2 separate regions of the Homo sapiens genome follow, and region 2 is linked to region 1. The links come from fine-mapping of genetic effects on gene expression. A gene starts in region 1. The other region holds a variant in brackets. All regions are shown on one strand. Distances are between the middles of the regions. Region 1 holds the start of RAB32 (RAB32, member RAS oncogene family). Region 2 has its middle 25 kb from the start of RAB32.

Evidence for each region. PIP is the estimated chance that this variant, and not a neighbour inherited with it, causes the effect. A credible set is the group of variants that fine-mapping cannot tell apart.
Region 2: its variant is the best candidate, but not a certain one, in a credible set for the expression of RAB32 in whole blood (TOPMed, PIP 0.68).

What each region holds. Positions count from the first base shown.
Region 1 is chr6:146,542,053-146,546,313 of GRCh38, reverse strand. RAB32 (RAB32, member RAS oncogene family) reads right to left here and starts at 2,481. Exons shown (of 3, transcript NM_006834.5): 1 at 2,193-2,481. The coding sequence starts at 2,442. RefSeq lists a silencer at 2,528-2,907.
Region 2 is chr6:146,566,447-146,570,707 of GRCh38, reverse strand. No RefSeq gene overlaps it. Among named protein-coding and RNA genes, the nearest start is that of RAB32, 25 kb to the right of the region's middle. The variant G/T (reference allele first, on the strand shown) is at 2,189.

The sequences.
Region 1 (4,261 bases):
TGTAAATTGCTGGTCTGTACTTGCTGTATGGGACAACAATACCTGTTGAAACAATATCTAACATCCAGAAATCCCTTTTGGAGATCTTAAACTTTTGTTTTCCTTCCTGGCAAAACTCAAGCTTTGGATTTAGTGAAAAGTACAAGGATATCCCATCTAGGCAGATGTTTATCAGAGTCTGATAAAAAACTAGATATGACCCCTTCCTGTCATTCGAGGTCTGTGATTAATAAAAAAAGAAGAGGTGATACCAGAAAGAAAATTTGTATCTTACTCCTGCTTTTACTTTCTCAAGTTTCTAACTATAAACACTTAAAAATCTAGTTACTCATACTGATTTACCAGCAGTGGGACCCAATCGTAGTTTAATAACAAAATGCCATAATTTACATAAAGAGTAAGGCAAGGTCAATCACCCTTGTAAGCAAGGTTTTAAAACCATCTTTGTGAAAAACCTCAGCTATGCTGCAGATTCCTGGAGAATGACCGTCACATGGTAAGGCAACCTTTAGAATCCATGACTTTGTCAAGAAGCAGAAATACTGCTCATTAGGGTTCTGTGCAACGGCAGGAAGTGTTTCGAAAAAACTTCTGGCTTCAAAGATGACTTTTCAAACGAACTTTTGGTTTTTGGTAACAAAAAACAACAACAAAAAGCTGAGTCCCTGGCTGATTACTCCTTTTTTCTGAGCAACTGAGTTGCATACAGTTATTCTCCTGTCTGAGGGACAGAAATGTGCTCTTAAATGAATGAGTTATAGGTTACAATTATTTACTACTCTTTCTTATGTAACAAGCTATAAATGACAAGAGCACTACCTGGCAGACAGACAGTAGACCTGTGATCCCCCCAACCACTCTGCTACCAGCCAGGTAGCTATACCCTCCATGGGCTTCAGTGTAGGGACTGTAGAATGAAGGGTGGCCTCAGGTGTCCTCTAACCCTAAACCAGCTCCCATTCTAATGCTGTACTGCAGACTGTGCTTCTTAACACCTGTAATGATTGAACAGAGTAATTTTCGTACTTTTTTTTTTTTTTTCTGAGATAGGGTCTCACTCTGTTGACCAGGCTGGAGTACAGCAGTGAGAACACAGCTCACTGAAGCCTTGACCTCTCCTAGGGTCAAGTGATCCTCCTGCCTCAGGCTCCTGAGTAGCTGGGACTACAGGCACGCACGACCACACTTGTCTAATTTTTTGTATGTATGTATGTATATATGTATGTATGTATTTTGTAGAGACAGGGTCTCACTAACAGCCCAGGCTGGTCTCGAACTCCTGTGCTCATGCGATCCTCCAGTCTAGGCCTTCCAAAGTGCTGGGATTACAGGCGTGAGCCACTGGCACTTGGCTTGGTACCATTTCTATGAACTTTCCAATAGTTAACATCATCTTTAAAACGCCCACTCCCAACCACCACACCAGGCAAAGTTCAAGTGTTCATAAATCAGAGCAGAGGGAAATGTACCCCCTCAAACAGAACAAATGAAAGCAAATGGCAGAGAAACACTGTATTGAGGAGTGGGGGGGGGGCGGGGGGGGGCGAGGGCACCAGGGATGGGACTAGGTGTTGGTTTAGCAAGAGAGGAAGGGGTGAGTGTAAGGTTTCAGAAAAGCTTTCCCAAATCTTCACGGAGTGTCTGTCCTCGGCTTCCGATGAGAGCAAAGTATTTGAGGAATGGAGTTTCCCTCACAAAGGCCAGTCTCAGAGCCAAGGCGGGTGGTGGAAAATGATCTGGAAAGGAACCTGGCTTTTGGTCTTGGTGGTGTCACTAACTAGGAGTGCAGCTTCGGGTTAAGTCACCCAATCCCTCTGAACTTGAGTTGAGGCTGAGAGGCGCCGGCCCGCTCCAAAGCAGCCTTCTCAACTAGTCCTGGTGTATGTATGATATACTTGCATTATTCAGAGTTCAAACTTCTGGAAAAGGCCCCCTGGCCTCCTCGCCTCCCTTCAGGAGAGCGAGCTCTGGCGTGCAGGACCTGCTCCAACTCCTACTGCCCATCCCATCCTCTGGGCCCCACCGAGTCCAGCCGACCGCGTCCATCGCATCTCGCCCTTGGATTGGGCCTCTCTCTTCTCCTAAAGGTACCCAGGCAGACGAGTTCAGGCAGAAAAGAAAAAGAAAAGAAGCAGAGAGGAGCCAGGCGGCCCGGCGGGGCTCTGGAGTGGGAAACTCGCGGCCGCGCTTACCCGCGATGTCCCACAGCTGCAGGCGCACCAGAGTCCTGCTGTCCCAGTTGAGGACCTTGAGGGCGAAGTCCACCCCGATGGTGGCCCGGTAGTGCTGGGAGAAGAGCTGGTGGACGTAGCGCTTGATGATGCTGGTCTTGCCCACGCCAAGCTCGCCGATCACCAGCACCTTGAAGAGGTGCTCGCGGGTCTCGGGCGCTGGGGCGGCGGCCGCCCCCAGGCCGGGGTCCCCGGCTCCTCCGCCCGCCATGAGCGCTGCGGCTGTCGGGCGCGCCTCGACTCCGAGTCTGGCCCCCTGCCCGGCCTCGCGCTCTGCCGCCGCGCCCCCGGCGGCCGCGGAAACTCCCCCGAGGCCGGCCAGCCCTCCGCCGCGCCCGCTGACGCCGCCTGACCGGTCACAGGACCCAGAACCCGCCAGTGCTCGCGGCCCGGGCGGGGCCAGACGAGGGCAGGGCCGGACGAGGGCAGGGCCTGGCGCCGGCTTGGGGAGGACCCTGCGCGAGGCGGCTCCCGCCCTGCGCCTCTGAAGCCCGGCCGGGCCCAACTGGACTTCCTCTCCCGGGCGGCGCCTCCGAAGCCCGGCCGGGCCCAGCTGGACTTCCTCTCCCGGGCGGCGCCTCCTGGCGGTCGCGGCGCGGAGGGAGGCCCAGACGCCCGCTGGTGGGCCTCCGGGGAGCCGGCCTGGAGCCTTTATGGGCCCCGGAGGTTCACTGGGGGCCTGAGGAGGCGCCGAGGTCGCTGAGCCCCCCCCGGGGCCGGGGTCGGCGTGGGGTCCGGGCCCAGCCTGGAAGCCTCTGGCCTGGAAATCCACCTCCTGCCCTACTCTCCCCGCAGGGAGAGCCACACTTGCGGGCCTTGGCTTGGGTCGCGAGCAGTCCCCTTTAGATGGGAAAGGAAGTGGCACCGTGACTTTGAACTTAACGAAGGACGGATAACACTGGGCTGGTAGTTCTGTTTTTAACTTTTTGAGTGAACCTCCGTAGGGTTTTCCATAATGGCTGTTCCAGTCCGCATTCCCACCACCAGTGTACAAGGTTCCCTTTGCTCCGCACATCACCGACACTTATTATCGCTTATCTTTTTTATAACAGTCATCCTAGCAGGTGTGAGGAGATACCTAGTGGCTTTTCCCTGTTCATTAGTGATTTTGAGCGCCTTTTCTTATACCTGTTGGCAATTTGTACTTCCTCTGGAAAAAAAAAAAAAGTCCATTCACATCCTTTGCCCGTTAGTTAACTGGGTGTTTTATTTATTTATTTTGGCTGAGTTCTGTGAACGTAATGTATTTTGGATATTAACCCCTTATCAGATATATGGCTCACAAATATTTTCTCCCAATCTATAGGCTGTTTTTTCATTTTGTTGATTATTTCCTATGCGGTGCAGAAGCATTTTAGTTGGATGAAGTCCCATTTATCTAGGTTTGCTTTGGTTGCCTGGGCTTTTGGTGTGATATTGCAAAAATCGTTGCTAAAGCCAGTGACCCAGCTATCCCTCTTCTGGGTGTATACTCAAAGGAAATGAAATCAGGATCTCAGAAATCGCTCTCAAGTTCATGCAGCATTATTCACAGTTGCGAAGATTTGGAAACAACCAAAGTGTCTGTTAACGATGAATGGATAAAGAAATTGTAATACATACATAGGCATGCACGCGCGCATATACACAGACGCACACACACACACAATGGAATATCATTCAGCCTTTAGAAGGCGATCCTGACATTTGCAACAACATGGATAAACCTGGAGGACATTATGCTAAGCGAAATAAGCCAGACACAAAAAGAAAGATACTGTGCAATATCACTTATATGTGGAATCTTAAACACACACACACACACACACACACACACGGAATACGTGGAAACAGTGGTGGTTACCAGGGGCAGGGAAGAAACGGAATGATGCAGGTCAAAGTGTACAAAGTTGCAGTTATATAGGATGAATGAGTCCTAATGATCTAATGTAGCATGAGCGTTATAGTTAATAATATTGTATTTTAAACTGGAAATTTGCTAAGAGAGTAGACTGTAAGTGCTGTTACCATTAAAAAAAAATTGCAGCCAG
Region 2 (4,261 bases), 24 kb before region 1:
TTTTCCATGCATTTTTCTTCCACTGTAATCCCTGTCAGCAGTGTCTGCAATTGCCTCAGTGGTCTAGGCTGTAGGAATTTTTGATGACAGTAGAGGGGTCTTGCTGGGGTAGAGGCTCTGGGCCCATTGTCAGGCTGGTTGCATGTGGGCACAGAAGACTGACTGGCCTTCCACTGGGCTGTCTGTAGAGTTGGTGGCTGCTGCCAGATGCCTGTCAGGCTAGGCTTGGGGGCACAAGGATGTGGCCAACTGGGATGCTGTGTGGTTCTTTCTCCAAAGAGGCAAGGCTACAGCTAGACTAGATGTCAGGCTAGGTATGCATAGGCATGGCAGTCCTGGGAGGCTCTGTGGCAATCTGTTGGGGGGCAGGTCTTCCATAGGACCAGCTGTTGGGCCAGGTACAGGTGCACACATTCTTGGCAGGCCATCTGGCTGTGGGTCATGGGTGTGTATGGACAAAGTAGCTGATCTGCTGTTTGTTAGCTCCCATACTGTGCAGATTTGCCTGTTCCTTGGAGACAGGGTATATCACATGGGTTTGGATACCAAAGTCTTGATTATTCCTTCTGGCCTGGGCTCTGGACAGCTGGAGTCATGGTGCTGCGGGCACCTGTGTAAACATGGTGGAATGATGGTGGGGCCTCAGGGATAGAAAAAAAAATCAGTTGCCACCAGCCCCTAGAAAAGGGTGCCCTTTTAGTAATGGGTGCAGTTTTAGGATAGCACCAACCTATAGAAGCTTAGGTCACAAGGGTGATGAGTGCCCAATGTAGGCTTCTACTCTGAGACAATGTACCTGCCTGAGCTCCTGGTTAATCTGCAAACTGAATTTGGTGCCTGTGAAGATTGGGGGACTTTACTCTAACAAGGATAGCTGGCATTTGGTGGCAACGGGGGCTGCCAGACATCCACAGCTCAACTTTTCCCAGTAAGAACTCCCTCCTGACGCTAAGTTGATTCTGGTGGGAGAGAGAGTGAGGCAGGGGCGGAAGGCCTCACTGTCCTCTCTCTGGTGCTATCCTGGGCTTCTGGGCTCCACAGAGAATTTGACACTCCCCTGGTGCTCTCCAGCATACTTCTTCAGCCAGTCTAGTCAAAATATAGTTGTTTGTTTGTTACTTCAGTTTCTTTTTGTGAGGAGGGTGAGTACTGGCTAACTCTAGGTTGCATCTTGCTGACTTCATTGAGGCTGTTGATTCTGTTCCATTGGTCTATGTGTCTGTCTTTATCCCAGTACCATGCTGTTTTAATTTTGAAATAAGAAAAGATGCTGTCTCCAGCTTTGTTCTTATTTCTCAAGATTTATTTGGCTATTTGGGATGTTTCGGAGTTCCAGTGAATTTTAGGATTGTTATTTCTACTTCTCTAAAAAAAAAGCCATTGTAATTTTGATAGAGATTGCATTGAATCTGTCAATTGCTTTGTCTAGTATGAACATTTTTTTTAGCAATATTGTTTCATGCCATGAACATGAGATATCTTTCAATTTATTGATGCCTGCTTAAATTTCTTTCATCAGTGTTTTTAATTTTTTTTAAATTTTTTATTATACTTAAAGTTCTGGGATACATGTGCAGAACGTGCAGGTTTGTTACATACATATACATGTGCCATGGTAGTTTACTGCACCCATCCACCCGTCGTCTACATTAGGTATTTCTCCTAATGCTATCCCTCCCCTTACCCCCACCCCCTGACAGCCCCAGTATGTGATGTTCCCCTCCCTGTGCACATGTGTTCTCATTGTTCAACTCCCAGTTACGATGAGAACATGCAGTGTTTGGTTTTCTGTTCCTGTGTTAGTTTGCTGAGAATGATCATTTCCAGCTTAATCCATGTCCCTGCAAAGGACATGAACTCATTCTTTTTTATGGCTGCATAGTATTCCATGATGCACATGTGCCACATTTTCGTTATCCAGTCTGTCATTGATGGGCATTTGGGTTGGTTCCAAGTCTTTGCTATCTTCCTTGTTTGATATTTGTGCTTGTTTTTTGGTTTGTTTGCATTGCGCTACTGTGTCTTTTTCATCTGTTTCAGTTTGTTTTCTGCTGCTGCAATAGAATACCACAGACTGGGTAATTTATAAACAATAGAAGTTTATTTGGCTCAGAGTTTTAAAGGGTGGGAAGCCTATGAGCATGACAAGCATTATCCCATGGCCAAAGGGTGGAAGACAGAAGCAAGT[G/T]TGTGTGTGTGTGAGAGAGAAAGAAGAGAGAGAAGCATCATCACATGACCAAAGGGTGGAAAGGAGAAGTGAGTCCATGTGTGTGTGTGTGTGTGTGTGTGTGTGTGTGTGTGTGTGAGAGAGAGAGAGAGAGAGAGAAAGAGAGAGAAGAGAGAGAAGCATCATCACATGGCCAAAGGGTGGAAAGGAGAAGTGAGTCCGTGTGTGTGTGTGTGTGTGTGTGTGTGTGTGTGTGTGTGTGTGTGAGAGAGAGAGAGGAGAAATCAGGACAAACTCTCTTTTATAACAATCTTAGTGTTGCAATAACTAACCCATCCTGTAATGATGACAAGCCATCATGACCTAATCACCTCTTAAAGGCCTCACCTCCAAATACAGTTATATTGGAAATTAAATTTCAATGTGAATGTTGGAGGAGACATTCAAACTATAGCACCATTCTATCACTTACTGTGTTTTCAATAGTCTATTCTCTTTCGTACTGCTTCTAATTTAACCTTAGTTTTTGTGATATATTTTTCCACTTCAGCATTTTTCCTGAACTATAAAAGAAGCAGAGCTGGTGTTGGGGATGTATTCATTCTCTAGGGCTACTGCAACAAAGTATCACAACAGAAATGTATTGTCTCAAAGTGCTGGAGGCTAGAAGTCCAAGACAAAGGATGTCAGCAAGACCACGCTTCCCCAAAAATCTGCAGAAAATTTTATACTTGCCTTTTCTTAGGTTATGGTGGTTTGTCAGCAATCTGACAAGTGATTTGTTGCTGAATCACTCTAATCCTCTGTCTTCACATGTTCTCCCTATCTATGTCTTCAAATAGCCACCTTTTAGTAAGGACATCAGTCATATTATATTAGGAGGCCAAGCTACATGAGTATGACCCCATCTTATCTAATTACATCTGCAACCACCCTATTTTCTTTTTTTTTAGGAGGGGTCTACTAACACTGTAATTTTTTAATTTATTTATTTTTATTATACTTAAAGTTCTAGGGTACATGTGCACAATGTGCAGGTTTGTTACATATGTATACATGTGCCATGTTGGTGTGCTGCACCCATTAACTCATCATTTTCATTAGGTATATCTCCTAATGCTATCCCTCCCCCCTCCCCACACCCCACAACAGGCCCCAGTGTGTGATGTTCCCCATCCTGTGTCCAGGTGTTCTCATTGTTCAATTCCCACCTGTGAGTGAGAACATGTGGTGTTTGGTTTTCTGTCCTTGCGATAGTTTGCTCAGAATGATGGTTTCCAACTTCATCCATGTCCCTACAAAGGACATGAACGCATCATTTTTATGGCTGCATAGTATTCCATGGTGTATATGTGTCACATTTTCTTAATCCGGTCTATCATTGATGGACTTTTGGGTTGGTTCCAAGTCTTTGCTATTGTGAATAGTGCCGCAATAAATGTACATGTGCATGTGTCTTTATAGCAGCATGATTTATAATCTTTTGGGTAGATACCCAGTAATGGGATGGCTGGGTCAAATGGTATTTCTAGTTCTAGATCCTTGAGGAATCACCACACTGTCTTCCACAATGGTTGAACTAGTTTACAGTCCCACCAACAGTGTAAAAGTGTTCCTATTTCTCCACATCCTCTCCAGCACCTGTTGTTTCATGACATCACTGGCCATCAGTGAAATGCAAATCAAAACCACAATGACATACCATCTCACACCAGTTAGAATGGTGATCATTAAAAAACCACGCTATTTTCAAATAAGATCACATTCTGAGGTACTGGAGGTTGGGACTGTGTATTAGTCTGTTTTCATGCTGCTGAGAAAGACAAGTCCAAGACTGGGTGATTTGTAAAGAAATAATAGACTCAGTTCCACGTGGCTGGGGAGGCCTCACAATCATGGTGAAAGGCAAAACGCACGTGTTACATGGCAGCAGGTAGGACAGAATTAAAATCAAGCAAAAAGGGTTTCCTCTTATAAAATCCTCAGATCTTGTGAGACTTATTCACTACCATGAAAACAGTATGGGGGAAACCACTCCCATGATTCAATTATCTCCCACAGGCTACCTCCTGCAACACATAGGGATTATGGGAA